Regions from separate parts of the Homo sapiens genome. Here region 1 is linked to region 2. Evidence: fine-mapped expression QTL. A gene starts in region 2. The other region holds a variant in brackets. All regions are shown on one strand. Distances are from middle to middle.

Region 1 (16,911 bases), 380 kb before region 2:
CAATGTGATAGTATTTGGAGATGAAACTTTGGGGAGTTAATTAGGGTTAAATGAGGTCATGAAAGTTGGACCTTGGTCTGATGGGATTAGTGACCTTAAAAGAGGAAACACCAGAGAGCTTGCTCTCTCTCTCTCTCTTTCTCTCACTCCCTTGTACACACAAAGAAGGGATCATGTGAGCACATGGCAAGATGGTAGCTGTCTATGAGCCAAGAGAGGAGGCCTCAGAATGAAACTTCACCTGCTAGCATCTTGATCTTGGACTTCCCAGCTTCCAGATCTGTGAGAAATATATTTCTGTTGTTTAAGCCACCCACTCTATGATGTTTTGTTATGGCAGCCTAAGCAGATTAATACAGTGCAGAATAGAATCCTAAAACCATTGATTATAAAATGAACCATCAGACAATCATAGAATCATTTGAATTTTTCTCACCTAAGCTTATGCATATCATGATAAAGTGATAAATGTCTTTCAAATACTCTAATGCTACACTCTCTTTCAAGAATTCACAGTGACGAAAACGTGGGTGGAAATGCTGAATTCTGCTTCAGAGAATATAATTAATAAAATGATAACGTAATTGTCAATGTCATTTTTAAGGCTCTAACACTTGTGTATTTCTTTCACTGTTTTGCTTTCCACCTTCAAATCATGGTGAGAATTATGAAGTTCATCTGTAAACAAAATTTCATAGCTCTTCTAAAAATATCAGTGAAGAAGAAATTGATCCTTTGATCTCCTGCCTTCTTTTCTGTTTCTTTCACCCAGTAAGTTTCATTTTATCAAGGGAGAAACAGGAGGAGAGATGCTGACTCACTGATAAAACTTCTGGAGCTCCAGGGACCAATGAAAGAGACTTTGCATCTAATTGCATGGCTTTTCAAATTGGACCAGAAGTAAAATTATGTGTTTTGAATTTATCATTGTATATAAGGGTTTTATAGTTTACTCTGAATATTTTTGGAAAAGAACAAATAAATAATGTGTGCTATCACTTATTACTAATGAATGGTTAGTTTATTCAAAGAAAAAGATGAAAAGTTAAATACACAAGTGACAATCATATTTAATATACTGCTTACTCCATTTTTCCCTCATACTTTAGATTTTCTTCAGTTATGAGTTTTATATATATACTTCTTTTTTCCCTAAATCTTGATTTGCAATGTAAATATCAATCCCATAATTAACACATTTTTTTCCTCCATTTAAAACGTGTTTTTAAACTTTTATTTATTTTATTTTATTTTATTTTATTTTATTTTATTTTATTTTATTTTATTTTATTTTATTTTTGAGAAAGAGTCTCGCTCTGTCGCCCAGGCTGGAGTGCAGTGACCTGATCTTGGCTCACTGCAAGCTCTGCCTCCCTGGTTCATGCCATTCTCCTGCCTCAGCCTCCCAAGTAGCTAGGACTACAGGCACCCGCTACCACGCCTGGCTAATTTTTTGTATTTTTAGTAGAGACAGGGTTTCACCGTGGTAGCCAGGATGGTCTCGATCTCCTGACCTTGTGATCCGCCCGCCTCGGCCTCCCAAAGTGCTGGGATTACAGGCATGAGCCACCGCGCCCAGCCTTATTTCTATTTTTTTTTTTTTTTTTTTTGTAGAGACAGAGTCTTGCTGTGTTGACCAGGCTGGTCTCAAACTCCTGACCTCCGGCAATCCTCCTTCCTCTGCCTTCCAAAGTGCTGGCATTATAGGCATGAGCCACTGTGCCTGGACTTTTCTCAATTTTATTGTCAGATTCGTGTAGTCTGAATTATTAGTTTATCAAGGAAGTCAATAAGAATTTTAAGAACTCATTTCTGATAGAAGTTAATTTTTGAGATACAAGAAGTTTGATCAGCTAAGGTCAAAGTAATGGCTAATGGTAGAAGCCAGACTGTTTCAGAGGGTTGCAGATTCTGAGACCGGATGTGATATTATAGACATAGCTATTTTCTCCTCAACAATTGAATATTAAACTGCCAACATAATTCTAATCTTATGTTGGGCAATCAAAACACAGGGCTGGTCAAGAACTGATTAAGGGCTTGTTTTCTGAGTCAGACAATCAGCAGCAAACCTCCCACCCACCCCAATTTATTACAGTTCTTACTGCTCTGTTACAACAAGGCCTTAACACACCCAACTTGTTTATGTTTTCATATATATATGCAAATCTCAAGTTATAGATTTGGGGTGGTTTTCAACGTGACAACATCTTATACCCTTTTCTTTTTGGGAACTCTGAACAGGTCAACCCGTTTGATGTAATGATGTAATACCAGTTATGTTTAATAAAGGAAATATTCTTTTCATTGTGAGACTGTTATATGTTTCCCCATTATCATCTAATTTCTTTTTTATTATTATCCATAATTCTTTCTTCACTGTTTTAATTCTTTTTATTTTGATTTTTGGGAGTTTCCTCTGATTACTATCTTGTGTGGCATACTTCATCGAATGCATGAACATTGAGCGGATTTGCCGGCATGGAGAGGTTGCCCTTCATTCAGAGCCACCTTTGTCAGGAGGAGGAGCAAGTCAGGACTTTGACTTTCTGGTGGTCACATAGCTACTGAAAGGATTTCTGATCCTTGCAATTTTCATATTTTTGTCTTTCATCCACTTTAGTTTCTCTTCTCCACTATTCTCTACTTTATTTTATTTTTTAACCAACTTCTTTCCTTTACTTGCCTCTTTGCATCTGAAGCAATCTATCGATTAAAGAATGCCTGTCTTCCTTCTCTGAGTTACGATCCTCAAGTGAAGGTTGGATTAGTTTCTTAAACCAGCTAAAATCTACTATGTTCATTTTTATCTACACTAGGCCTCTAGGTTCTCCTTGGAGTTGAAATTCCGTCATTTGATAAGTATTTAAAAGGAAATACTTCATGCCAGGCACATGGTGGGAATCAAACAGAAAAGTTCCCATATCCTCACAGGGCCTGTGTTCTGGCAAGGGAGCCAGATGATAAACAACATGTGTTAATGTGTGGTGTAATGGTAAATAGTGACAACAGCTGGGAAGAACAATTGAGCAGGATTGAGATAAGTGGGAGAGAAGGTGGAGGCAAAGGCTATCTGAAGAGGTGACCTTTGGGCAGCAGCTGCATGAGCAGGAAGGCAGACATTCAAACATCTCAGGGCAGAGAATTCCAAATGTGGGAACAGCAAAGTCTCTGAGCAAGGATGTGTCAAGAGTATTTGAGAACAGCAAGGAGGCCAGTGTCTGTAGGGTTGTGATAGGGAACATGGAAGGAAATTGGGTTCCAGAAGGAGCTGGGGGCCAAATCCTGCCCTCAATGAGCACTGTAGGGGGAAAAATAAGGAAGACTTTAAAAATAAAAACCAGAAGCATTTTTGCTTACAGTGCAATACATCATCTGGAACAAAATAAGTGGTGCTTATTCTGTCTTATTGCAAACAAGAATGTTACTGAGTATTTGAAAAGGGAAGTAACCCAGTGGCCTGGGCATAAGTGAGGAAGGCTTCCTGGGAGAGGATGGCCTTGAGCTGTTCTCATGCACTCATTTTCTCAGCTTGCATTTTTTGAGTGCAAAATATGTACCAGGCCTTTGCTAGGTGTTGGAGATATGTGATGGGCAAAACAGACCCATTCCTGCCCCCATGAACTTACAGTCCTTTAGGGGAAAGGTAAAGCAAAGAATTATACAACTAAATATACAATTACAAACTGTGAAAAATGCTCTAAAAGTATGGTGGACCATAGGGTGCTGGAAAGACTAAGATAGGCACCTAAGGTAGCCTGGGGAAGGAGCATATTATAGGGGAAGGTGACACATAGGAAGTGGCCAGATGACAGGGAGCTGGCCAGGCAGGAGGTGTGCAGAGCTGTCTGAACAGAGGCAGCAGACTGTGGGGTGGTCCTGGGCAGAATAGGAGGCTTATTTGGGGATCTGAAATGCAGCCAGTGTGGTTGAGCATAGTGAAAGTAAATAGGAAAGGTGGAGAAGGTCTTTTCACAATGTAGATGCATCCAGAACATGTGGGACTTTGGATTTTGGATTTTATCCTTAAAATACTGGGAAACAACAAAAGGTTTTAAGAAGGGGAGTGACATCATCAGATTGATGATTTAAGATGCTCATGCTTCAAGCTGTGTATGGAAAGGTATTGGAAGAGGTCAAAAGAAGAATCAAAGGACTAGGTTGGAGGGCACTGTAGGAGGTCAGGATAGCATGATGCTGGCTTAGACTGGAGTGGTGACAGTGGAGACCAAGAGCAAGGGCAGACATATCTTTGAAGTATGTTTATCAGGTAGACCATGGGAAACACATGGAATTTTGATTTATCTATGCTGTAAAAAAATTAGAAATACAAAGAAAACAAGAGCCCCCAGCTTACAAGCTCTTAAATTAGAACAATGAAATATACCTTGACCAGGAAACCAGGCAATCTCACTGGAGAGCTTGCATGTCAGCAGTAATTGTCTTTTATTCCTGGAAAGTATTTGGGAGTCTGATTTGCTACTTTCATACAAATTCCAAAATAATACTGAACTTATTAGTAAAATAGTATACCTGAACTAAATAGTATACCTACTGTGTGCTAGGAACAGCTGTAGGTTTGGTTTTGGGACACAGTGGGGAGTAAATAGTCAGACCTCCTTCCTCAAAGAGCTGGAATTCTGACAAAACTTAAATTTCTGTGTACCTTTTAAGAAATGTATAATTTTAGCCAAAAGATAATAAATAAGAGTGATGTGTTTTTTAAATACATCAGTTTGATATAGGAAAGTATAAAATAATACTTTCTGAATTTTTATGAGACAACTTCAAAAGATTCTATTAGAAAATACTTTAAAGTAAATAAATTAATTGGCAAACAACTTACTGGGAAAGCATTTGCCATCAAAATAACCAAAGAATAATTTTATTACTATAAAAAGATCTTGTAGAAATCATTAAATAAAGCAGGATCCCCCAACAGAAAAAATGTACTGAAAGTATAAATACCTTAAAAATAAGTAATACAAATGGCTTCCAGATATGAGAAAATTGACCTCTGTAGTAATAAAAGAAACACAAGGTAATTCAATCTGACATTATCTGTCCCTGTACTGCAAAGATTTCCGTTTTTCAATCATGATACTTAGTGGTGGGTAGGTGTGGCAGAGCCAGTGCGAATTGACACAGCTTTTCTGGAAAGCTGTTTGCAGTATGGATGATGAGCCTTAAAATGTTAAATCCTTGTACTTAATGCTATTTTTAGGGGTACACTCTAAAATAGTCACTGATAAAGACAAAGATTTATGTACATAAAAGTGGATAAAGGGTTCAAGATAGGACATAGATATTGAGCTTATAGGATCAGAAAATTAATTCTGTGACCTGAATCACAATAAGAGTTTTCAGAACTTCCAGAGATCTCATTTTGACTCTATTGTGAATGGATTGAATGGCCTTAGCAAAGATCTACAGCATCTGAGTTGGAGTCTCCATCCATTTCCTGGTTGGGAGACTACATTGTACTGGTTTAGTGCTAAAGCAGAAGTACAGATCTTAGAGTTTCCTTATGCTCCTGCCCCAGAGAGCTGCTGGAGGCTTCTGCTAGCCCAGAGATTGGATCAGAGCCTTGACATACCTGCTAGGAGCTCTCTGACGCCATCTCCAATCTCTCAGTCTTGCCTTCCACCTCCATTCCAGATGTTAAGTTTCAACACACACACACACACACACACACACACACACACACACACACACTCGGTGGAGAGGAAGACTGAAATAAAGACATCAATGAGTTTGGAATCAATTATAATAATTGCAATGCTTATATAGTGCATATGTCAGGCAGTGCATTTTATTTATAGTAACAAATTTCATCCTCACAATAACAATAAATAAAATAATAGTACCATAAGGTAGATACTATTATGATCCCCATTTTACAGATGAGGAAACTGAGGCATAGTGACTTGGCCAAAGTTATACTAACAGAGTATGGCAGAGCTGGGACTTGAATCTAAGCAACCTGGGTCTAGAATTAGGCCTTTAAATCACTGTATCATCCTGCCTTTTTAATAAAATCACTGAAAATTCATGTCCTGACTTTCCCACTTACCAACTGGGTAACTGGGAAAGGCACTGAACATCTCAGATACTGGGTTTCCTATTGTGAAACAGATACAGTAATACCCACCAGACTGAGTGCCATGATAAGGGAATGAAATGATGTGTGTGAAGTTCTTGACACCTAATGCACATGGAAATACTTATGGTATTATTACTCATAAGCATATTTTAATGCACGTGAGTCTGTACCTTGGCTTTGCCACAATATTTAACTGCCACTGAAAAATGACTTGCAAAGACAAAGCTGTGCTGGCCTGAAACATTTTGAGGCCCATTCCTTGTGTCACAGCATTTGGTGGATATACAGCTTACTAAAGAGTGCTGATCCCTACCTCTTGGCCAAGTTTCCAGGCCATCTGCACATCCTGGAAAACCTGATGACTCTAGACGAGGTCTCAGCCCATTGTGGGATCCACTGTAGTGGGTTTGACAAAAAACTGTTGGCAGTTTCCTATCACTGTAGTGTGCGGCAGCTAAGTTTGGGCACAAAGGAACTCACCAATATGGACTAATACGTAACATCGTGGGCTTGAGAAGTGAGCTTGCTTGTCTGTTTGATCCCATGAGCTGGCTTCTAAGGAATGGCTGTGGTACAGAATTTTATACCAACCACAAGAATGTAATTATAAGCACGTCTTGATCTACTTCCCACTTATGTGGTCACTGCTTGACATTTTGATCCTGCAGAGTAAGAGTTCTAAGAAAAAGAGAAAAATAGATTCCTCATATAGCCTAGAGTAGAAATGGAAAGGGAAACATTTGTCTTGGGTAGTCCTGTGTTTCACAAGTTTAACAAGTTCTTGTGTTTATTTATATAATGTATATATCTGCTTGTTGTCTTTAATTTTCCTTTTTTTTTAAAGGTATAAGTTAACTTTGTGCTTAACACTTCCTGATCTCCCACTTCCTTAAATCACTCCAACCTCTTGCTTCTGCTGTCACATCACCTACTACTTACTTTGATCCTCTTATTTCTCACTTTATAAGGACCCTTGTGAGGACATTGGGCCCACTCAGATAATACTGGATAACTTTCCATCTCAAGATTCTCAACTCAATCATATTTTTAAAGCCCCTTTTTCCATGTAAGGTAGCATATTCACAGGGTAGGATGTAAATATCTTTGGGGGAGCCATTATTTAGCCTACCATGGTTGATCAAATTTGTGTCTTAGAAGTATCACTCTGAGGATCACATATAGAGTTGATTTAAGAAGTATGGCAGAAGTTCAGGAAAATAAATTTTAAAATGTTGCAATAATACAGGCACAACTTTGAAGAAAGATATGACAATGAGGAGGGAAAGGAGGATATGAATTCCAAAGATATCCAGGAGTTTAAATTAGCAAAGATTTCACGACCGGTAGGAAATAAAGGAGAGGAAAGAATCGAGGTTGACTCCCAATTTTTGATTTCAGTTAGTTTGTTGTGATATAATTAACCTGCAAGGAATGCATGAGAATTTGTGGTCAGGGGACAATTAGTTCAGTTTGAGCCACACAGTTTGAGTGGCTGATAAAATATCATGTTGTTGATAACAATTGTCATTGGAAATTCAGGCCTGAAACTGCCATAAGAAAGAGATCATCTGGGGAGAACACATTGAGTAGGAAAAGAAGTTCAAGAATAGAATCTTGGAGACTCCAACATTTGATAAGAATGGCTGGGTAACAGGACAGAGAAGGGAGGAAATAGAGATGTCATTGAAGTGAAGAGACGAGAGGCTTTCAAGAAGGAAGGTGTTGGCTGTGATGTCAGATATCTTACGGAGCCAAGTAAGATCAGGCCTGACGATCTATTGGACTAAGCGAACAGATAGAAGGTAATGTTGGATCTTATTAAGAACAATTTTAGAGAGCCCATGAAGCCTGGAGCTGATGGAAGTATTGAGGGTGAGAGTGAAGTTATTATTCAAGAAATGTGATTGTAAACAGAGGGAAAAAATTGGATAGTCAATACAGAGAGAAGCAGGTTTCCCCTAGTGATGGCAGTGGATTTCACATTTTATAATTTAAGGGAAAGCCATTGGGGAGGTAGAAAATTAAGACAAGGGAACAAGAGATTGATGGAGAGAGGAGATGAGTAGTATCAGGTGGTAGAGGAGATAAGTGAAGATCGCACGTTTAAGGGTTAGCTCTATAGACAGAAGTGGAGAAGGAGGCATATATGTAATGAGTGAGAATATAGATAGGTACATTAAAAGGGGATATGGCAAAGATGAAGGAAGTTGAGCTTGACAGCATCCATGTTTTCTATGATGTAGGTGGTAAAAGCATCTCTTCACTCAGGAGCTGCAATCTGAGCTCACAAGCTCAGTCTGGGGTATATGTGCACAGATTTGGATCCCAGCTCCACCACTTCCTAGCTGGGCAACCTCAGGTGGTTGCTTAACTCCTCTCCAGGAGTTCAAGACCAGCCTGGGCAACATGGCAAAACCCCATCTCTACAAAAATTAGAAAAATTAGCCAGGTATGGTGATGTGCATCTGTAGGCTCAACTACTAGGGAGACTGAGGTGAGAGGATTGCTTGTGCCCGGGAAGTTAAGGCTGCAGTGAGCTGTGACTAAACCACTGCTCTCCAGCCTGGGCCACAGAGTGAGATCCTGTCTCAAAAAAACAAAAATCAAAGTGCTTATTAGACTCATTTCTTTAGCTTTTTAAGACTTCTTCCAATAAAAAGTTGTTTAAAGTTTTAATATGTATCAGTGTGCCTTTTGGATATATCTGATCTTCAACTATAGCATAATTTATTTAAAGAATGTAGTCCATACATATTATTTTAGCTTGATGCCACGGATAATAGGTCTTGTTTTAAATTCACATCTGGGAGAAAGTTTGATATCATATTTATACCTGCAGGTCTAATAGGATGTTTTATAAATTTCATTGTATGAGATCTTCATCCTGTGATTTCTAAATTTGGGCATCCTCAAGCCTGAGGGCTATCTGTGATCTCATGGTAAGGAGTTCAGGGTCTTAACTAAAACATCTCTATCAATCACTGCAGCAGGCTAGCTATCCTCAGATGCAATGTGAGTTTTCACCAGTCTAGATCCTCTGGTGTCCAGACATTAAATATGGCTTAATTTATCTCTAGATTTTTTTTTTTTTTTTTGAGATGGAGTCTCACTCTGTTGCTTGGGTTGGAGTGCAGTTGTATGATCTTGGCTCACTGCAACCTCCGCCTCCAAGGTTCAAGAGATTCTCCTGCCTCAGCCTCCTGAGTAACTGGGACTACAGGCATACACCGCCATGCCTGGCCAATTTTTGTATTTTTTGTAGAGACGGGGTTTCACCATGTTGGCCAAGCTGGTCTTGAACTCCTGAGCTCAAGCAATCTGCCTGCCTCAGCCTCCCAAAGTGCTGGGATTACAGGTATGAACCACCATGCCCAGCCTCTAGAAATAACTTGATTACATCAAGTAACTTTGAAAAATTATATATATTATATATAATTTACTTTTATTATGTATAAAATGAAAAATTTATCTATATAATTTATCAAAATGTCTTTATATATGTATGTATGTGTGTATATATATACATCTATCTCTATATCTATATCTATATCCATATCTATATGTCTCACCCAGGAGAGAGTGCATATGCGTGAGAGAGAAGCAAGAAGGAATAAGGAAAACAAAAGTAAAGGGAGTGAGAAGAGGAAGAGTTAATGAATAGTTTTCTCTCATTCTGCTAAAAATGCCTGTATGCTCTCTTTTTTCAATCCAGAAAATAAAGTCCCAAACTAATGTGGCACTCTTACAATTTAATCATCAATTCATTGTGAACAACTGGATGAGGAAAAGTTGCCCAGAGTTACCAAAAATAAAATTCTTTAGAAAGGAGAAAAGCCATGCCTTAGGAAATTGGTAGAAGATATGTGATGGACACAGCAGCTTCTCATCAATTGACTTGGTTTTACGTTAAAGGAAACATGCAAATCTTTGTAGGTTAAACCACATATGAAATTCATGAGAGCCTCTTGGGCTTTAGGCACTGACT[C/T]TGTGGAAATACTAGCTGTAAGCTGCTTTCTTAGGGAAGGGATGTTTATTCTGTCACGGTGCTACTGAAACAGCTCAAAGTTACCACCTTAGAAATCTAGCTTTCACCAGGTACTTTAAAATTCCTTTAAAAAAGTGTATTTTATTAATTTCATTCATAATTTATTAGCCCTTAAATTTTTCCAGTAGCATTTGATCTGCCAGAGCTTCCAAATGTAGGATATTTTGTACTTCGAATGCAAACTAGTTGTCTCTTGAAACTGGGTAATGGGAAAAATTTAGCACAGAAATATCCCTGTGACCAAGTTTCTGAGTAAACGTGCTAGGGGATTCAGTTGGGTGCTAAGAATACACGGAAGAATACACTCATGCATCCCTCCTTTGATTAATGCAACAAATATTTATTGTCTACTTCGTGTCAGACATTGTTTGCTTCTTGCTTTAGGGATTAAGCAGTGAACAAAGCTGTTGAGGACCTTGTCCTTATGAAGCACATGTCCAGAGTTATGGGAAGCAGAAAGAAAAAAAATACTGCAAATACTTTATATTGTATGTTGTAAAATAAAGCAGGACAGGTGGATCATACCACTCCTTTGTTTAAATTCGTCATTTATTTCTGTGACTTTAGGAGGGAGTCTAAATCCCTTGCCTGTATCCTGGCACTCTGTTTCTTCAGGCTTCTCTCTTGTTGCCCCCATTCTTACTCAAGGCTGCAACTTTCTCTTTTCTTGGCTTGACCCTAGGACTTTTCAAATATACCTCTGAGACCCTTTATCCTCTGCTCCATCACTATCTTGCCTACACCTGGCCAGCTCCCGCTGAACCTTACGTCTCAGCCTAAATACTGCTCTTTTCAGGAAGTCCCAAAATTCTCCCTCCAAGTCTGGTTGTGCATTGTCATGAGTGGTCCCTTACCACCTGGTACATCCATTCATCTCTTAACATGGCGCTTGTTGCCCTGTATTATGGCACTTGTGTGTGTTTTGTGTGTGTGTTGGGGGGAAGGTGTTGTTTTGTTCTGCTTTTGTTTGACTGGCACACAGTTCATACTTGATTAATGGGTGAATGGATAGATGACAGAGTGGATGGATGAAGGAATGAATGTGATAATGTAATGTACTCTATCTGATACTGGACTTTTTAAGGCTGTAGAGACTCCCATTCTTTGAGTTCACACCCAATAGTCCTCCTTTTCCTAATTCCTCTAACGGTGAGTAAATTTTCTTATTAGTGACTCACCAATTTTTCCCGCAGCAGGTGGACAAAACCTCTTTAGTAGACTAGCCTTTCTTAAGCCAGTGGGGGGAGAAAAGATTCTATCTTTTAGGGAATTGAAGGCTATGATGTAATGTTAATAGCATAGGAGAGAGCAGAAGCTTTGCGTGTCTGAAGCATGGCTCTGTGTTGAAAGCTCTTGAGAACACTATGCCGGGGGTGCTTTTCTAAATCAAACTTCATCCATGAAATGTAATTTGGGGAACTTTCCACGTGGCGCCGTGTGGACTCTGGCAGACAATAGTATTTTTATTTGCTAGTAGTTTTCTTTCGGAGAGGGAGAGTGATTTCGCTATTTGGTTTTTTCTTCCATTTAGTGCTGCATAATGCTTATTAGAGACAAAATCTTACTACTTCCCTGCTTCGCGTGCTGTAAGCTACCTAAATGTGTTCTAAGTATTGTCTTAGAGGGCGTGTGTGTGTGTGTGTGTGTGTGTGTGTGTGTGTGTGTGTGTGTGTGTGTGTGTGTTTAGGAATTTGAGCCAGCCCCCACCATTTTCCTGCCCTCCCTGAGGCTGCAGGACTTTAGGATTTATTGTAGCCACTCTTAGAAGGACAGTTGCAGTTGTGTCTGTAGAGAGAGCCTATAAATATCAGGGCATTTGGTAACTGAGAGTAGAGACAACTGTCATAATCATGGGTTCTGCAAAGACTTGAGTCTGCTGGAAGCAGTGTCTTGGGGTCGGCAACAGGCCCTTCAGGAGGATGGCTGGGGAGGGGTTTGGGGACAATCAAAAGGACTATATTTTGCAACTCGCTTATTTTCCTGAAATGAAATTCATAGGTAAGTATAGTCCTGCTATGCACATACTTTGCAAAATCTAACATAATGATCTACCTGTAATATAATATTCATTTTAGCTTACAAATGCTAAAAATAACTATATTAGACATAATGAAGTAGTCAAATGCTTGTACCTAACACAATAAATGTGTTTGGATGTAAGAAAGTAAAATCATATTCAACTGAATAACGCTCATGTTTTTGTATATGAGATATTTTGTATAAGAGATATTCTAAAATTTTCATGTGTCCTAAATCAGACTCAGCCTAATTTTCTCACCACCCTTCTCCGTGTTACCCTCCAACTGGTTCCTAAACCAATCTCTAATCACTATAGTGTGTCAAAAATCCTGTGTTTCCTCTTCATCTCACTCCTGCCCTACCCTCTCCTGCCTCTGATTTATGACAACAGCCGTCTAACTGGTTTGTCTGTCTCTAGGGTGTTTTAGAAAGTTGCGTGGTCACCACAGTAATGGGGTGGTGATGAGTATTTGGTGAGTACTGGCCAGGAATTCTAGAAAGCCTAACATGCATGGAGCAATGCATAGAACAGTGCATGAAAAAGTGCAAAAATGTCCTGGGTCCCACATAACATTTACTCATCCTCTGTACCCTGTGGAGATGAACTTTTATAATTACCTAAACCTAGAAATTAATTCTAGAATCAATCTGGGAACTTTTTAGTTTTTTGGGGAAACTTCTTTGTCATTGAATTTATATGCACAAAGTGGACTAAATTATTATCTTATAAATCTGTTTCGTGACTGTGGTTATTTCTCATTTTTTTTCTTTCACTATACTTGCCTAGGTAACTAACGCATGGATTATACATTTTAATGTGTGTTCATTTTTCAAAGAGCCAGCTTTTAATGTATGTATTAGCTCCATTACTTTTCTGTTTCTGATTCATTGATTGGATTTTATTTATAGAATTTGCTTTCTTCTACTTTCTTTAAGAGTAATTTGAAGTTCCTTTCTAAATTCTTATTTTTCTTTTTTTTCCTGTTTAGTAATTTTTGTTTTAAACTATGAATTTTCTTCTGACTTGTGGTTATATTAAAATTTTATTTATCATTAGTTTTTAGGGATTTTGCAGTGTTGGATTTAATTTCCATGTTGGATTTCTCATGAGTTAAGAGATATTCTAAAATTTTCATGTGGCAAAGATTTATTTTCCTATTTTTGTTATTAATTTCTAATTTTAATGCATTATGATCAAAGAATATGATCTATACTATTCCTATGTTTTGAAACTGAGGTTTCCTATGTGGCCTGCTGTGGATTGAATTGTAAAATATGTTACAGTTCTAATCCCTTGGTACCTGTGAATATGACCTTATTTGGAAATAAGGTCTTTGCATATATAATCAAGTAAAGATGATGTCATAAGTCAAAAAGTAACTGAGACAGGTCTCAATCAATTTTGAAGTTTATTTTGCCAAGGTTAAGGATTATGACCTATTAGGAGGTCCTAGGAACATTGGCCGAAGGTGGTTGGGTTACATCTTGGTTTTATGTGTTTTAGGGAACATAAGACATCAATCAATATGTATGAAATATACATTGGTTTAATAAGGAAAGGCAGGACAACTTGAAGTGGCAGGGCTTACTGGTCGTAGGTGGATTCAAAGATTTTCTGATTAGCAATTGGTTGAAAGGGTGAAGCTGTGCCTGAAGAGTTGAAACTAGCCTGAGTTAAGGCAAGTTGGGAGGGCTAGAGAAGCCTAGGTTCTTGTTATGTAGATGAAGCCTCTGGGTAGCAGGCTTCAGAGAGAATAGATGTGAACATCTCTTATCAAAGGTGTCAGGCTCTCTGGAGAGACCTAGTAAAGGAAGGAGAATCTCTATAGAGTGTAAAACTTCCTCCACAAGAGACAGGTTTGCAGTGCTATTTCAAAATATGTTTTTTCTTTCAGGACTTTGCTGTCATGTAATGCTGTACTAGAGACAGGTTAGAATTTGGTATCTTATGGCTATAAAGAGTCTGTTCTGTCAGTCTTAGGATCTCTGTTATAATGTTAATGCTGGTCAATTTTGTGCCTGAATTCCAAAAAGAGGAGAGTATAATGAGTCATGTTCAACATCCCCTGCCCCACTCCACCATCCCATCATGATCCAAACTAGATTTTCAGGTTTCTTTGGATCCCCTTGGTTGAGACGAGGGTCCATTCAGTCTGTGCGTGGGGTTAGAATTTTATTTTTGGAACACAATATCATACTGCCATACTGGATTGGATTTAATAACTAGTCTAATCCAATAACTGGTGTTCTTTTAAGAAAAGGGAAACTTGGACACAGAGATACACACAGCAAACACTATGTGACAATAGAGACAGAGATTCTAGTGATGTATCCACAAACCGAGGAAGGCCCAGGATTCCTGGCAATCACCGGAAGCCAGGAAGAGGCAAGGAAGGGTCCTCCTCTAGAGCCTTCAGAGAGAGCACGGCCCTGCTGACACTGAGAGAATAAATTTCTATTGGTTGAAGCCACATAGCTTGTGATTCTTTGTTATGACAGCCCTAGGCAACTAATATGTAGCCTAATAAGACATGGCCAAACTTTGTAGATGAAAGGAGCTTGAAAGGGAGGTATATATTTTTCCATGTGAGGATCTACCTTCTTAATTATGTTAAGTCCTCTATGTCTTTTCTTATTTTTGGTTTATTTGAGTTATCAAAGACAGAGAGATAAATTAAACTTATTTATGGCTACTGTCTCTCTATTTTTCCTTATATTTTAATAATTTTTGCTTTAAGAATGTAGATGTGATGCTATTTGATGTAGATGCATTAGGCTCAGAATTTCATTGTGGGTTGCATTTACTTATTATTACCATAAAGTTCTATTCCTCGAATTCAACCATGCCTAACATTAATATCCTTAATATCCTGACCCCTGCTTTACTTTTATTTTCATTTGCTTACTGTATTTTCCCATCCTAAAAGGATGGAAATGATACTTCCAATTTTTTGAGTAACTTTTCTTACATATTATATCACTTTTTTGAGTTTAGACTTCTTAAAATCCAATTAGAGTCCTTTAAAGAAGTGAATGTGTCTGACTTTTATTTATCTGACATACATGTTTGGTTTCTCTTATATCATCTTAAATTGTTTTATTACAGTAGTCACCCCTTTTCCACAGGGGATACATTCCAGGATCCCCAATGGATGTCTGAAACTGCTTATAATACTGAACTCTATATATACTGTACTATCGTTTCTCCTATACAATCACATTGTAGAGGGTGGGTAGCGTATCAAACATGACTATGCTGGACAAAGGGATGATTCATGTTCCAGGCAAGATAGAGCAGGATGAAGCAGGATGGTATAAGATTTCATCACACTACTCAGAATGGTGTTCAATTGAAAACTTAGGAATTACTTATTTCTGGAATTTTCCATTTAATATTTTTGGACCTAGGTTGACCCAGTAGGTGAAACCTTGGAAAATAAAGCCATGGATAAGGGGGGACTGCTGTATATGTTTTCTTTTGAAATATTTTGCTCTGTTGGTGTTTTCTCTATTTTCTTTTGTGTGTTTTCTCATAGCGAGGAAGTTTTACAGCCTACTTTTAGTTATTTGTGCATAGGCATTCTCTGTGGTTTGTGTACATGCCTTGGTGTGTGTAGGTAGTAAGGTGAAAGAGCCTGTGTGAAAGAATAAAGATGTAAGAGAATTTGATGTGCTCCAGGAATGGCAAAAAGATCTCGATAACTAGAGCACAGGCTGTGTCATGGTACATTAGCCTGGAGAGCTAGGCAGAAGGCAGGCCATTGTGAATCTCCTTAGATGTTTGAGAACCACTGAAAGATTCTGAGCAGGTGTGAAACAAAAACAAACCAGTGAGCAAACTCTCTGGCAGCCAAATGGAAGATGGTTGAGGCTAGGGTGAGAGGAGTGACTAGAAGCAGGTCAACAAATTAGATCTCCATCATATTATCTCAGGTGAGAGGTAATGAGAGCTTGTGTGAAGCCTATGATAGCACAGGTTGAGAGAAAAGAGTATGTAACAGGTACAAAAGATTGTAGGTTGATTATACACGGAGGTTGGGTAGAGAAAGGGACTATCTAAGGTAACTCCAGGTTCATGGACATGTAAGTGGACTATAGTTCTATTCATTGGGATAAGGACCTAGAAGGATGGGCAAGTTTAAAGAAAACATGCTGAGTTCAGGTCTGAACAGGATGAATTACAATCACCTGTGGGATACCCAGTACTAGCTAATTGGCAGTGGAAATCAAGGCTGGAATATAAAGCTGGGAACCCTTTGGGTATGAGTGGCAGCTGAAGCCATGGTTTGGGATAAAGCTACAAGAGAAAGTAGCTGTGCTCAAGTAGTAGCTTAGCTGTGCTCTCCAATACAGCAGCCACTAGTTGCATGTGGCTATTCCAATTTAACCATGAGTTAATTAAACTGAAATAAAATTAAAAATTCAGCTCCTCAGCTGCACAAGCCACATTTCAAGAGCTCAAAGACTGCATATGGCTTGCAGCTACCATATGGGACAGCACAGATTATAGAACATCATCAAAGAAAGTCCTATTGGACAGCTCTGGTACAGAGTGAAAAGGGAGAGGTTCAACATATATCAGGACCCTGTTGTTATTGATAACTAGGTGTTTATTAAAAAAGAAGAGTCCAATGAAACAGGCAGAGAAGGAGTGTCCATCCATTGAATGTCTTTGAATGGGCTGAGCATGAGATGCTTTTCTTGCATTATCCCTAATCCCCAAACTGCCCTATAATGTTGGTAA
Region 2 (16,911 bases):
ATTTTACAAAGAAAATCAATGTCTACTGTCTAATGTTAGATTTTCTGTTTTTCTGTGATGTAAACTCCCTCTGTTACTCCAAAGCTTCAGAAAAGTCTGGTGCACACACACACACATTCATGCAGAGTAGCTTGAGAGGGAAGTCAAGGAAAGGAGCCACGTGCCCCCATCTGGGTGGGTGCAGAGGACACAGAAGGCACCAGCCACGGAGACAGGGTGTGGGTGAGACAGAGATTCAGGCCAAAGGGTCCCATGGAATGTGAATCCCTAGAAAGTCATAGAAATCTAAGGAGGACCCTGGGTATTTCCTCAAGATGTGGGAGAGGGGCTTCCACCAATTTCTATTAAACCTCAGAGTAACTAGAATCCGGATTACACATTCATTCAATCAACATTTATTAAGTGCCCACTGTGTACCAGGATATTTTACAGGCACTGGGATTTCTGTGTTGAAGAAGGCAAACTTCCTGCTCTTTTACCTGACTTTCTAGGTGGGGAACAGAACAGGAGCAGATGAGGAACAGACAGTAAACAAATAAAAAAAAAAACTAACAGGATTGTTTCAGGTAGTGGGTGTATTATGAAAAAAATAACTAAAATAGGGACTGTTGGGAGTCCTTCAGTAGAGGGGTAGGGTGCCCAGGAGTAGAAGTGGGGTGCTTATTTAGATCAGGAGACCAGGTGCTGTTGACCTGGGACCTGAAGGACAGGAAGGAGCTGGCCATGGGTGAACCCTGGGGCTTTTGCTCTAAGCAGAGGGCCTGAAGGCATGTATAGAAGAGAGCAGTGTGACTGACCCTAACGGGCTAGGGAGAAGGAGACTGTAGTAGTGCCCTAGGGTTTTGCCATAAGAAAATACCACAAACTGGGTGGCTTAAAATAATATTTATTCTCACAATGCCAGAGGCTAGAAGTCTGACACCAAGGTGTCAGAACCAAGGTGGTTCCTTCTGAGGGCGGTGAGGGAGAATGTGTTCCCAGTCTCTCCCCTAGATTCTGGTGGCTTGCCTGTCATCTTTGGTGTTCCTTGGATTGTAGATTGATCACTCCAATCCTCTACCTCACGTGGCCTTCTCCCTGTGGCTTATCACATAGGCCTCCCTCTGCGCATATCTGTCAATGTTCACATTTCCCCTTGTTATAAGGACACCAGTCATATGGGATTGGGTCTACCCTAATTTTAACCTTGTTTGAATTAATTATCTCTTTAAAGACCCTATTTCCAAATAAGACCAACATTCAGAGGTAGAGAAGATTGGGACTTCAACAGATCTTTTTGGAGAGACCCAATTCAACTCATACCAGTAAGATATGGAAAGGAGTTGGATTTTATTCTAAGCACCCATGTGAAATGCCTGGCACAGTGCCTGGCACATGGAAAACAATAAATTTTAGTATCATTATTATGCAGAGAATTTATTTAAAAATACAAAATTTAACAGGAGAGTCTTTAAAAACATGAAATTGGATTATGTCACTGCTCTGGCTAAAATCTCTCCAATGGCCCCCTTTTGTACTCCAAAAAAATTCCAAGTCCTCACAGGGCCTTCAAACCCGCTACGGTCTGAGCCCTTGGTGATCTCAGACATTGTCTCCCACCAGCCCCCACCTGCTCCGTCCACTCCATTCACCCTGGTCTCCTTGCTTGTCCTCAATCACCCCAAGCTGCCCCTCCCACCTCAGAGCCTCTTCCTGTTTGTTGCTTCTGCCTGGAATGCTTATCTCCCAATATTGGCAAGGCTGGCTCTGTAATGTCATCCAGGCTTCACCTCAAATACCTCCCAACCTCGCCCAGAGAGGCTGTCTCCAAGAGCCCTCTTTAAAATAATGCCCACATCACTTTCTATCTCCTTCTCTACTGAACTTTTCCTCATACCTTTTACAACTACTTATAATTATTCTTTCTTTCTGTCTCTCTCTCCACACACACACACACACACACACACACACACACACAACTACACTATATCTAAAAATATATAATTAATTAATTGTGTCTGTCCTTGCCACCATAATGTCAGCTCCATGAGAACAGGGAAAGGTATGTTCGACGACAGAACCTTAGCCCTTAAGAACAGTGGAACAGTGCCTGGCACCTAGGAGATGCTCAATATATGTTTGTTGAATAAATGAATCAAGGGTGTGGATACAATCAGGAGTAATGAAGTGGTTGGTGAACCTATTCTCATTCAAGTGCAGTTTTCCCTGTGTCTGTGCCTGCAACCCATAAACTTCCCATTATATTTTTGTTTCACCAATGATGAGTCTTGGTCCCCTATACATTTGTCTTTATTCATTGTAGAGCACTCAGAGATGCATATTTAAAAGACAGATTTTTATCTCAGGAACATGGAGTTCAACAGTGTGTTTCTATTTTATTTTGTAGTTTTCATCTTGCTGTTGCATAAATCTGAGTTATGCAGGGACGGGGGATGAGATGCCTTTAAAATACACCTGAATATCTGCAGATGCTCTTTTCTGTACTGCAGTGGTAAAGGGATTCCTGAGCTCCAAAAGAGTAATTATGTCAGATGATTACTGGGAATCTAAAACATTTTCCTCTATAGCATAGAAGTAAATTAAACAGCAATCAAATAGGAAACAAATATTTATCGCAATTCGAAAAGTGACTTCAGATGCACTCTGAACCACTCAAGAAAATTAATGAAATAGCTTTAAAATCCTATGTTCTTGTATTGCTATGTCTACAGTTCCAAAGATTATAACACAAGTTGATCTTTTATTTTATAAAACTGATTTAAGAACAAATACATTTTGACTATTTCCAACATTCAAATCAGTCTTTGATGGAAGAAAATCTGCCATTAACAATATTCAAAAGAACATGCTATAAGTTCTTAATTACAAAGACACAGCCCAAAAATATTTTGGAAAATGCAACATTGCTGAAATAAATTAATAGCTTTCCAATGTGACTGCTCAATTAAATGCAAAAATTTTGCTGAGATTTCTAAAATACACACACATCTCATGATAAACTTACACATATTTAGTTTGTGGTACATTAACTTTTCCAGTATACATCTTAGCCTATTTAAAATGGTTCTTTACAACTTTTACAAATTACAGTAGTTATGACAGAACTACATATTCTCCAGGAAAAAGAAAAAGAAAAGATTATTTAATTTGAAAATGCATGGTACTGGTCAAACATTTTAAACTATGCAAATAGTTATAAAATGTATTTCATTATTATATAACTCCATTAATTCCCTTGAAGTTCTTACTTTTAAAGAGGCCTTCCTTAAGGGTATTTATTCAAAAGACATCCCTGATTAAATGCCATTATAAGTAATGAAACTATTAAGAGGAAGGAGGGAGGGAGGGAGAAAAACAAAAACTTCTGCGTGACTTAAAGATTTCTAAATCCCAGCCAACATACTAGTAATTTCAAATAGTATTCACTACAAACGTTTTAGCAAACCAAAATCATGAAGCCTTTAGAATTTCATTCCCAAACTTGACTGGCAGTGAATTCAGATGTGTATCATGTGTATCTCTTTTGAGCTATTATTATATTTATCATTTGAATTTAGTAGCCAGTTCACCCAGGCTGGCCCATTCCTTCAAGTCAACACTCTAGTATTTTTCCGCATGGCCTGGATAAGCAACTTCAAATTATTTACCAGCCAATTCAGCTTAAAGAGGCAAATCAGTAATATACATAAGCTCATTCATTATAATCTCAGAAAAAGTCACACTGGTATATTATAAGTAATTGCAGCCTGGGAGACTAATAAAGAAAGGCAGCCTTAGGAAGTTCTCTGCATCATAGAATGCTCCCCTTTATTACTTTGCTAAGGCTTGTTTGGGCTTCATTCTATGTGACAAAAATTTTTCATAATGGGCTGGTAAATGCCCCATGGCGTATTTCAAGGAAAAGAAGATAATGATTAATGGTAGGATAGCTTCATGCTAAGGTCAAAACCCCTTTTGTGGAGGCAAATAACACACAAGTTTCTACTTACTAGAGAAGAAATGGGAGGGAGGAGGGGTTCCATCATAGATACAATAAAACAGAGAATGTGTCTTACTCCAAATCATTTCAGAGACGTAGATTGCTCTAGAAACCTAGAGCTAGTTATAGAACACTGGCCTTGAAATGAAACTGCCACTGGGGAAAAATGGAAACAGAAAGGCTTAAATACATTCCCTCAAAGCTCCCCAGGGCTTTTCTTTATGCCCAAGGCATTTCTGGTGGAAACAGCCTAAAGAGACAAGAGCGATGTTTTAAAAATTATCCTCGTTTCTTTGGAACATTGAGAAAAATACTTACATACTTTAGTTCTTCCACGCCTGCCTGCTTTTTGAGTAAAATTTATATTTAAAATATTTTATTTATCTCTCAGTTGGCAAAATCATTTAATTTTGCCACTCTTCTAGAATTTATGTATTTATTCAATATTTCAGCAACTTTAAAACTTCATAGCTAAATATATTACTTAATCATTTATACAAGATGTAATTACTGAGCTCCTACTAGGTTCTAAGGATACAGCAATGAAAAGACTGCCAAGTTCCTTACTCTTCTGAAGGTTACTTTGTAGTTAGGGGAGAGGAAGAACTAAAAAATAAATAAATAAATAAATAAATAATAAAATAGCAGGTGGTGCTAATGCTGTAAAGAATCAAAGTAGGGCAGTATGATAGAGAGGGACAGGTGGCTACCCTAGACCGACCGGTCAGGAAAGTCCTCTCTGATGAGGTTAACAGCTGACCTGAGAATTGAATGACAAGAAGGAGCCAGACATACAAAGATCAAGAAGAAAAAGCATTTCAGGCCGGGGAAACAGCCAATGCAAAGGCCCAAATGTAGAATCATTGTGGTCTCTTCTGGGGACAGGAAGAAGATCAGGGTGGGCAAGTGGGACGGAATGAGTTCAGAGGAATAGGCATGGACTAAATCCCAGTCCAGAAATTACGATCTATGGCTGGACGCTTGATTGAATTGGGAAACATCAGAGCAACACATTTTAATCTGATTCTAGCCTCTTGCAATTAATACTTCTTCTCCTAATCTGTCCCCTTCCAAAATAGCCTGCACTTCAGTGGCACATTAATTGATTCAACTTCCTTGTTCAAAAATTGTCTTATAGACACCATCTGCTCTATAGAAAAAGTTCAAATTATTTAACTTGACATTTACAGACCTCCAAAAACTTACACTAGCTAAACTATCCACCTTTATGTCCCCTGCTCCACTAATGAATACTCTCCTCTAGCCAAACCTTTTCTCCAACACTCCTTTTATTTTATCCTCTTGATTTTTTTCTCATGCCATTTTCTATTGTTCAGCAAGAGCTTTTCCTCCTGTCACCAAATTCATATCCACTTTTATTCATTAAAATATTTTTGTAACTAGCAAAAGAAAACCCAACACAAAGTGGATTAAACAAAAAGAAATTTCTTGGCTCAAGTAAACTAAAAGTCCAAAGTAAAGCACATTCAGGCACAGTTTGATTCAGAAGTTCATGATGTCATTTATTTTGAGATGATCTTGGCTCTGTGTGTTGATTTCATTCTCAGGCTGGTTTCCTTCAGAATAGCAGAAATGGCTGCAAGAGTTCTAGACCCTGTGCTCAGTTGAATCGTGTTCCCCCCAGATTCCTGTCCATCTGGGACCTGAGTATGTGACCTTATTTGGAAATAGGATCTTGGCAGTGTAATTGCATTAATATGAGGTCATATTGAATTAGGATGGGTCCTAGTCCGGTGACTGGTGTTCTTACAGGAAGAAAGGAATATGGATTTAGAGACACAGAGGGAGAAGGCCAGGTGAGGACAGTGGCGGATATTTGACTGAGGCAGCCACAAGCCAGGGAACACCAAGGATTGCCATCAACCACCAGAAGCTAGGAAGATGGAAGGAAGAGTTCTTCCCTAAAGCCTCAGAGGCACCTCAGAAGGCACATCACCTGTCAGCTCCTCGATTTTGGACTTCCAGCCCCGAGAACTATGAGAGAATAAATGTCTGTTGTTTGCAGACAGCCAGTTTGTGGTGATTTCTTACAGAAGTGTTAGGAAACTAACACAGGCCCCCGTTGCTCATGGGCCATCCAGGAGAATAGAGAACCATGTATCTGGCAGCTCCCATGCAAAAGAGCAAAAACTTCTTTTCAAAAGCCTCAGCAAATTTTCCTTGTTTCTCTTGTGCCCATGTCTGAATCAATCACTGCATCCAGAGAACTGCCATCTGGAGCTGAAAGAACATCTCTCCTGTTCAAACCACATGGCAAAATGGTGGAGGAGGGATCTCCAAAATAAAACCAGGGTTCTGTTGCCAAGAAAAAAGGGAAAGAAATGCCAAGAGGGCAACCGGCTTATGTCCACTCTACTATTGAAGACAGGATGATTTTGGCTGAAAGTTACAGAAAGCCTTTCTCTCACTGGCTAGAGCATTGAGAGAATATATTGTTTCACACAATAGGTGATCTGGAGGCAGATCAAACTTCAGGCACCACAGGAACGGGCTCCAGATCTGCATCTCCCCTGTTCTCCAGCCTCAGCCTTCCTGCAGGTATCAGCTTTGTCTTCATGCCATCTCTTAACATGGTCACCAGAAGAAACTGGGGCAACTGATGATGTCTTTTTCATGTCCAGTGGGAGAGAGTACCAATCTGATGCCCAATCATGAAATAAACATCTTTCCTCTTAGACTGCTTGGACCCAAACTTGGATGGAGTTTGCTTTTCCTGAGATAAGTGTGCTGCACTCCTGTGCCCATTCCTAGATCAATGCCAATTGCTAAGGAACTACAATTTACTGATTGGCATAAGCCTAGTTCTCTGAATGAATCATGAGGGAAGAGATGTTACTATCACTGGCTTGGCATTAGACTAATTAGGATTCTCCCTTGGAGCTTAAGAGGGAGTTTGCTTTCCCTGAAACAAGTGTGCTGTATGTGGGATGGTTTCTAAAGTATGAAAAGAAGAGTGAATAGATGCTGGTTAGGCAACTAATTCAGCCACCACACCATCCTTCCCAGTACATATTGGATCCTGCCTCCTCCATGAAGTCTCTCCAGATTACCCAGAAGCAAACTCTTAGTCTCTGAATTCTTTCAGCACTTACTGCTCATACTAATATTTCACATTTACCTTATATTCTTTTCTTCTTATTCTCCATCTGCTTTGAATTACCTTATATTCTTAATAATACTTTTATGTACATATTTCTCATCTCCTGACTTAAATTCTTAAACGTGGGGTGTTACCCTTCCCACTATGTTGCAATATATCTAGCACATTACCTTGCCCAGAATATTTTATGCTCAATAAAAACCTGTTGCTTAATTGACTTTTAACAAGCAAAAAGAACCAGGCAGCCTTTAAATTTAGCAGGAGACATGTAGATCCAGCTCACTAGTTCAGTTCTTTCTTCTTCCTAATAGAAATCTCCCCTTGCTCATTATCTCCCAGGAGTCGTTCATGAAGACATATTGGTAATTCATCTGTACTTAATAAAATGGTTAGATTTTGGACCTAATTAAATAGTGAGAAACAGTGAAAATACATGACTTGACTAATATTTTGAGTAAAAATCTGGACAAGATACAAAAACTAAAGCAGGAATACAAATTTCATTATGGAAGCTGAATACGGTAAAGGAAACAAGACCTCTCCAATTGGAAAAAGATGTTTTAGTCACTTTTTCTATTTTAATAATAAGAAGCACCATTGTGCCTATCCACTCAAACTATAGATTTTTCAGCATCTTCTAGGTCTAACCTAGCACTCAGACATGAATGTTATGAGTTCCATTGCTCAACACTATACTTTTAAATTTGTATTCTCTCTGAAAAATGATTTTATCAGATTTAGTAGGAGAACTTTTAGAATGATTTCTTAACTAAAATCTCAGTGATCTAGCACTTTGATTAATAATTTATTAACAGAATTGTGACCACCTTGAGGATATCTTGAGGACATCTGAAATTTTCTCTACAAATAAATTTCAGTAATTCTGATGGTAATAGTTACCATTAATGAAAAATGTAATGTCCTGATTTAGACATTTACTATGGTTTGAATGTTTTTCCCCTCCAAAATTCAAGCTGAAACACAATCCCCGGTGTAACCATATTAATAAATGGGGCCTTTAAGAAGTGATTGGGTCATGAGGGTTCTGCTCTCATGAACGGACTAATCCATTCATGGATTACTGGATTAATGGGTTAATGGATTAATGTGTTATCATAGGCTTGGTTTAGTTATCAGAGGGCGGGTCTGTTATAAAAGCCAGTTTGGCTCTCTGTGATGCTTTCTGCCAGTTATGACACAACACAATGCCCTCACCAGAAGCAACCAGAGGCAGACCCTCGACCTTGGACTTCCCAGCATCCAGAACTGTAAGACATGAATTTCTTTTTTAAAACAATTACCTAGTCTCATGTATTCTGTTACAGCAACAGACAATGGACAAAGACAATAGACAACCAAAAGCGATAAAAGAGGTCAATGTTTTCAAAAAGAATTCATCTTCCAAAGAATGAGAACAAACAAATTATTTACTAAAAAGTAGAAAGAGTTGAGGCTCAAACGTCTAGATGAAACCACCTTATTTCCCTCAATGGGAGCAGGAAAATTGGATGCACACTCTCATATTAACCTTTCTCTAGGTTAGTGGAGATAATCAAGCCTGACTTGAGTGCTGAATATGCATTACCACTTATTTACTACCTGCGTAAACTTTGTTCTTATTTTATAAAAGAATTTGAACCAAGGATGAGTTGGGCTTTAATAGTGATTCAAGTCTCCAGGAACATTTAATGTCCACTGGCCATCTTCAAGTCACTAGACTGAGTAAGGCAAGAATACTGCCAGTAGGTTCAAAACCCAAATTTTAGTTCTAAGCATTTCCAGGGCCATCCTTCCCTCTTGTTTTCAAATTAGGTAGATATTTAATTCTTCTGTAGACCAGCTTTAAGAACTAGGGGAGGTGGGAAAGGAGACAGGTGGAAGGAGAGTATTTCAAACACAACAGCATAAAAATGGTCTTGGCTTGACAGTGACTATTTCTAAGCCATCAAATTAGAAAAAAAGCGGCTCAATTTGAAACTAGAGGATGAAGCCCCTGGTGGATTATAAATAATAAGGCCCTTCTTACCTAGCAAGCTTTTAGAAACAATAGAATGTAGTGTGTTCAGGAGGCCGTAGGCCTGAGTCCAAATGCCAGCTCCGCTCCTTGCTGTGTGACCTTGAGAGGTTGCCTAACGTTCCCAAGCTTCAATTTTCATATCTGTAAAATGACAGTGATAATAGTACTTACTTTGCAGGATGGCAGTGAAGATTAAATTACATAATCCATGTGAAACAGCTAGGAAAGGGCCTGGAATATATTAAACATCCATAAATGCTAGCTACTATGACAATTACTAGGGGGAAGCCAGCCTGCTTTGGGCCCACTCTACAGCCTCTGGCCCAGAGCTGTCAGCCCACCCTGCAATTATTTACAGACAGAAAGGGCTGCTTCACTCATTTCTCACTTCCTTGCTTCATTTTGCTTCTAGAATGGTTTATGTCAACGGTTTCATCCAAAGAGATGAAAATAATAATGTCTATTTACATAACATTATCCTTGTTTTCCTTCTTCCCTCAGAAATGCTCTGGTATTATCAAATTAGTTGCATTTTGAAGATGACATCCACTAGAACTAATCAAACTCAACAATCTTTGTTCCTTGATATTACCCTGGATCCTCACCCATTAATGTAACAGCTGCAGTATTTTAAGGGAGACCGGGAACACTCCCACTGCAGACTGTCTGCACTTGGTGACTGCAATCATGATTATTTACTGAATACTAATATTCTGTATGTGTTCTGTGGTTTAGCTTTCTAATGCCAGTGCTTATTCAAGGCAGAGAATAATAAATCGTCAGGGAGGAGAGTTGTTCCTGCTTAATCCAAAATCTAGTTCTCTCTAGTTGTCTGCTAATCTTTATAACATTAAACTCTTGCAGACCAAATTTCTGAATAGATAAAGTGAAAGATAACCATTTAAATCTTAAACCTCTTGAGATATTGTGGTTTCTAATAAGATATATATCTTTGGTCTTCCTCCCGGCTTCCTGACACACAACTCCTAGAACCTCTGGGGTCTCCAGAGTGACAATAGTGTCACTGTATGCTAATGAGATGGCCAGTAGCTGCCAGCCCCTGGGTAGCTTCAGGATGGGCCTGCTCACTGAAAAGACCAAAACACAATGAGAGGGTTAGGACTTTCAGCCCACTCCCCAACCTTTGGGGAGGAGAAAGGTGCTGAAGGTTGAGTGGATCTGCAATGGCCAATGATGGTAATCAATCATGTCTACATATAAAGTCTCCATAAAAACCCCAAAGGACAGGGTTCAGAGAGCTTCCAAATAGCTGAACACATGGAGGTTCCCCAAAGGTGGTGCGCATGGGGAAGGCATGGAAGCTCCCACCTCTTCCCCCAAACCTTACCCCACGCATCTCTTCCATCTGGCTGTTCACCTGTGTCCTATATTATATTCTATATCAATAAACCAGTAAACATAAGTAAAGCATTTTTCTTAGTTCTGTGAGCTGCTCTAGCAAATTAATCAAACCAAAGGAGGTGCCATGGGTCAGAAGCACAGGTCACAACTTGCTCGTGACTGGCATCTGAAGAGGGGGGTAATCCTGTGGGACTGAGCCATCAACCTGTGGTATCTGATGCTATCTCTAGGTAGATAGTGTCATAATTGGATTGAATTAGAACATACCCAGCCAGTGCCCACAGGAGAATTCCTTGCAGACTTGTTTCGGTTGGTATGTTAGAAAAACACCCACACACCTGGTGTCAGAAGTGTTGACTGACTGCGAGAGTACAGAGTAGAGAGCAGGAAGCAACAGTTTGGTTTTTTCCCTATATCCTTGTATCTCTTGAGCATCAAACTGGGATTTGAGCATTGGGTAATCTTCTATTTCTAACAATGAAGTGCTGTTTGAATTTTGTCACTAGGTCTGAAACATATATCTGATGATGTCCTGTGCATTGAAACTTCCTTTGTGTTTGAGATGTTACTGACCCTGTTACTTCTTTTGCTTACAAATGTCTCCAAAAAAACAGGAGCAAAATAAAACGCCCTTACCTCATTCCCTTCCCTCTGGGCTGTAGCTCGATAATTCTAACAATGTCTGCATGACAAATGAAAACTTCATTATTTATGTACTTTTCGTACATGATAGAAAACAGATAAACATTTGGTATTATTTAGACTAAGGTTTCAGATGTTTGGCTGAAATTTCATCTTTATATTCTGCTTTTTATCTTAATATCTTGGTGGAATTCCATTCAGAGCCTATATTTATACACACCATTCAAGTGGTAGAAAAAATAATTTAACACAAGGCCACCAAATTGAAGTGCCTTTACAAATCTGTTATTCTGTTGAGAAAGGTTTTTACTTTTTCAAACCAACTGCTGCCACTACTGCTAATGATTATTACTCTGCTTTTTTTTTTTAATGCCGTCTAGCTTTCTTTCTTCCAAAATGTGATATATGCTTCATATAAAAATTCAAATAGTGCAGAAAAGCACAAAGAAGACAGTAGAAATCACTTGAACTCCCCTTCTCTGAAGACAGCCACCATTTATTTATATTTTGCTGAAGACAAAATCTTGTCCTGAAGATAAGATTTACATTTTGCCTTTGGGACTTCTTTCTATGAACATGTACATGTAAATGCGATTGGACATAATGTCCTCAACTTGGCCTTTCTAGTCAACAATACTTTTGGACATTTTTCTATGCGAATACATGTAGCTCTGCATCTGTGATTCTCATTAAGTCCTTCTTTCTCTTCTAGATAAGAGTATGATGCATAAATTGAATGACATGGAAACATGTATAAAAATAGAGAGACATCAGCATCATAATTCATAATATCATATATCCACTGAATTGATATGCCATACTTTTTTAACCTTATTCCTTCATGGTTGGTGTTTGTTTTCAATAATTTATAATTAAAAGTTTTTTGGGTCTTTACTTCCTTCAAGTTTTTAATTTTTTAACCTATTTGTAGATACTACTTTTATCTTTACCCTGACTCTTATCTATGGTCTGAAATATTTTACACTTGAGAAAGCAAATTCTGATAGCACTGGATCTGTTCAATTGTAAACCCTTTGTTTGATGCCTTTAATCTATTAGAAAGGGAGTGCCATTCCTTGATAACATGTAAAGCTACCTATGCGAAGTAAAATCTTTATTAGAATATGAAGATTTGTTCTTAACTGACTTTCCTATCTAGCAAACAATTCAAGCTAATGGAAAATTGTTGGTTTGCGTGCCAGTTTTCTTTTGGTAATTCTGATAAATTACACAAGCTTATGCAGTTTCCTTTTTATGCTGGTAAGCTCAAGATTTATCAGGGCATGTGGTCACTCATCATTATATTCCAGTCCTCAAAAGTTAACACTTGAAATAAGGTTGAAAAATTTACCTAAGTTATAGGAACAATCTAATTAGTTAGATCAAAATTCATTTTCAGAAAGGAAGGCAAAGGGATCTATTCGAAATTAGCATTTCAATTTATGTTTAGAAATATTCATTCTTTTGGACAAACTTCCATATATTTACTCTGCCTTCCAGAGAGAGAGGCAAATACATGTATCATTCACTCATTTATTCAACCCACTAGGCTGTGATGTGCACATCATTGTCCCAGCAGACGCTGTACAATTAATGGTCCCAATATACACTGATGTCTTGAGGCTGGGCTAGCCTCAATGTTTTCAGTCTTTACCTGGTTGGTTTCTTGACTTGCTCTTGAGCCAAGTCCATTCTCTTTTCACAGCCATGCCTCTTTCCAGATGAGTCCAGAAGCTGAGTAGTGGCTCAAAATATATCTGACTTGAAGTGAGGAGACCTGAGTGGGATCCCTAGGGAACCTTGACATACATCTCAGAGTTGCTATAATATATTCACATCAAAATGGGGGCCATTTCACCAATCTCACAGAGCTTTTGTGAGTGCTAAATAATGTATACGAAAGACTTGGACACACTGAGGGCCTGTAGGAAGTGTTGTGCTGAGCTACTGTTTCCAGTGTCAAAGCAGAATAATAAAATTCCTTTCTGCTTGCTATACTGGATGGTTCAAGCCACAAAAGAAAAACAATAGGTAAATCCATCCAGATCCATGTAACTCTCACCTAGCAGAGAATTTTAAGACTATTATTTTCTTGAAAGCCAGACTCCCCTTTTTCTTTTTTCAACACATTGAAAAATATGACGTAGAAAACCAGAAAGCAGACACCTTCATTTAGATGCTTCACGGCAGTGGCTAATGTTTAGTTCCTGATTCTTACATCTTCCCTGGTTCTGAATCACATTTCATAGGTCCATGTATGGTGATTGCATGTCCTTTATTTAAGAGGAGAATCTTAAAAATCAAGGATGGAGAATCTGCAATCTTAGACTTGATTTTATCTTGCCCGTGGCGTGATGGTGCTTTGGCTACCTCCACCAATAACCAGAAAATCATTTCTCCTTGTGGCGAGTTGCTGCTGTGACTGTCTCATTCAGAAGAAAGCTTCTCAAGAAACAGATATTAGAGCTGCAAACAACATTGAATCAGCTAATGATTGTGGCAAAATATGTCCCTCATTCCACAGCCCCAAGGAATGGGAGAAGCAATAAGAGGATATTTTTGACTAAGGTTCCTCTTATTACCTACCTATCTTCCCATATTTCCCATGTTTCTCCAAGTATTTCTGACATCTTAAAGTTTTCCATCTCCAGTTCAAGTCCCGTCCTAATCCTGTATCTCTCATAACAGAGTACATTGTAGATATAAATCATTTTAGTCATTAGACTCACACAATCTTAGAGGAAAAATCATTATAATCATTTACTCTGACCCTCTCCTTTTCAGATGAAGAAAGGATGTCAGAACTAAAATTTATTTTATTTTGTTTCATTTTTATTTTTTGAGATAGGATCTGGCTCTGTTGACCAGGTTGTAAGTGCAGTGGCACGATCATGGCTCACTGCAACCTCCGCCTCCCCGGCTCAAGCCATCCTCTCACCTCAGCCTCCCAAGTTGCTGGGACTACAGGCATCACCATGCCTGGCTAATTTTTGTATTTTTTGTAGAGATGGGGTTTCACCATGTTGCCCAGGCTGGTCTTGAACTCCTGAGCTCAAGCGATCCACCCGCCTCAGCCTCCCAAAGTTCTAGGATTACAGGTGTGAGCCACCACGCCTGGCCCAGAACCAAAATTAAAATCAGGTTCTGGGACCTCGAGTCCAAAGCGTTTCAAATTTGCTGTATTTATGAAGTAAATGTTGAAGTTACCCATAGTTAGTTTTAAATTAGGTGAGCTAAACATTTCCTGTTTGTCTAGGGAAGAAAAGAAAAGACAGAAAGGCTTCTCTGCCTACCCTGTGGCATCATGCCTCATCTAGGACAGTGTATCCAGCCTCCCACAATTCATGTCCACTCCAGCAGTTGGACCCTTTTATTGATGGGCTATATCTACACCTGATTAAAAAGTGGAGAAATTCAACCAAGTGACTGATAGTCCTGAGTACCCTTTTTTCTGTCTAACTTAACAAAATCTAAACCTACTGTCTTCACTTTCCAGGCAAGAAATGTCTGTTTATGATTCCTGCCCTTCAGTGACTGGTAATGAATAACCATATGTGGAAATCAAAGTCTATATTGCAGTGTTTTGACAAGCATCTTTGTCCAATATCTTCTTCTCATAGGATATTAGATTTTATTTGAATTCTCATGCCAATTTTTTGGCCTCTGTTAGAGTATTGTATATTTAAGAAAGGCATTATTTTAAAATTATGGTTTTTATTAAAAATTACTTAGGTTTTTTCTGTATTTGCTATTTTTTTGCAGTAAATTGTGATATTTTCCTATTCTTATTATAGGAAGACAAATTCACTTTGGGAAGGTAAATGTTACATTTTAATAAAAGTCAGCTTACAGTTTAGATGGGGATAGTGAACCTAAAAGGGGAACAAACAGTTGTAAACTTTGACATTTCTCATTCTTCTTAACTGCAGCATAAGATTTACCTTTATTTTTTAATATTGGAGAACTTGCCATGTAAATCCTAACATGTGGATGAACTAAATACCTGGGGAGTTCATCATCTCTCACAAACTAAATCCAGAGAAAAAACTTCCTGACACAAGAAAAAACTGCAGTTAAATGGAAAACAAATAAAGCAAATGAAAATTGGAATGTGGAGCATTTTGCATGCCAGATAAGAAAGGGCATGTGACAAAGGAGAGCCATTTCTTCCATTTGAGATTGGAGGGGGAAGAGTCCAAGGCTAGAATCATGTGGCTGACCAGGCTCCTGGGACTTCCACATCTGCACAATGGATCATGCAAAGGTGAGCTACATAACTAAATGAAGTTTTTACTTATAAATTCGCATAGTTCATACAGTGGACATTTATCATCTTTTTAGGTGCTCAGCATCTGCACTTGTTTAGGGATTTTTTCTATTGTGAGTCATGGTGGGAAGCAGGGCCTACCTTCCACTACAGAAGTGGAAGAGAGCAGATAGCAAGCTTCTACTCTCCAAGGAATAAAGTGCAGGTGTGTTGCCTGTGCTGCCAACCAGGTGCTCTCACTCAGGTCTTAGAGACTGGAACAATTACGGTAATAGGGATTCACTCCAGCTGCACAGACCACAACACCCAGTGACCATCAGTAGCCGTGGAAGCTGAGGGCCTGAATCTCTAGAAGCCCTCGCTACTCAAAGTGTGGTCTGGGGACTTGTTAGGAAGGCAGAATCTGGGACCCACCCTAGACCTACTGAGTCAATATATTATAGTGCCTTGCACATAGTAGGGCCCTAATGAATATATCTTGATGTATAGACATATGAAAATATATTGAAATTTGATCTTGTGGAAGCTATCTGAATTATATTTCTTCAAAATATAATTATGTAAACAGCCCTTAACCCAATGACTGTACTCTTGAAAACATATTACATGATATTGTGTATAATAAATTGCATTTTACTTGCATTTCATTGATATTTAAAAGACTCTTCCAGTGAATCCTTCTGTAAATTCATTATGCCTTTTTAAAGTGAATAATCACTCCTTCATTTATCTGTTGTTAACATATGTTCCCTAAAGCAGGGCACACCCACAGTAAAGATTACTGTAATCATATGAGTTGTCACTGAGATGACCAGTGGAATTCTCTGCATGGCCCTTGTTATTTTGGTCCTTGTCTGTCTTTCTTTCGGTTCCTGAAGTGCCAGCTCCACATGATCTTGGTGTGTACTAACACATAGCTAAGCAACCAAAATGGATAAGGAAAACAGTTCCCTTTACAAGGTCAGCCAAGTGCTGTAATTCCAAAGCACTGCACTGTATTCGGCTACCTACAATTCCTGGACATTGAGGGCAACCTGCCCTTCCCGTTGGCATTGTGCCAGTCTTAAGAGCCTTCAATGGCCATCGCAAGCCCATGTTGGTAGAGTGCCACTAATACAGTGCCTGAGAGAACATAAAGCTCTCCCACTCTCACCTGGAAGAGGATGGCTCCTGAAAAGCAAACTTATTGTTTAAAAGCATTGTTGAAACAAGCTGGAGAAGCAATAGAGTAAGAATTGTGAGGAGGGACAGGAGCTGTTACAACTTTGCAATCAGACAATCAGCCAGTTACCTTCTTAACTGTGTTCTCAGGGAAGTTCCTTAACCCCCTAAGACTTCAGTGTCCTCCTAGATAAACTGCAACTAGTAAGGATGCTTATCTAATAGGTACCATGGGCAGTAAGTGTGAGAATGGATATAAAATACAGTATCAGACGCATCATTATTGCTCTAAAATTATTAGCTATTATGATGGTTATATTTCTACTGCACATGCCAGCTCATCGACAATTTATGAAGCCTTT

What was found.
Region 1: its variant is fine-mapped to the expression of LINC02421 in tibial nerve (GTEx, PIP above 0.99).

The regions. Positions count from the first base shown.
Region 1 is chr12:68,096,101-68,113,011 of GRCh38, reverse strand. No RefSeq gene overlaps it. Among named protein-coding and RNA genes, the nearest start is that of IFNG, 55 kb to the left of the region's middle. The variant C/T (reference allele first, on the strand shown) is at 10,089.
Region 2 is chr12:67,720,853-67,737,763 of GRCh38, reverse strand. LINC02421 (long intergenic non-protein coding RNA 2421) reads left to right here and starts at 8,289. Exons shown (of 5, transcript NR_110063.1): 1 at 8,289-8,368; 2 at 15,051-15,385.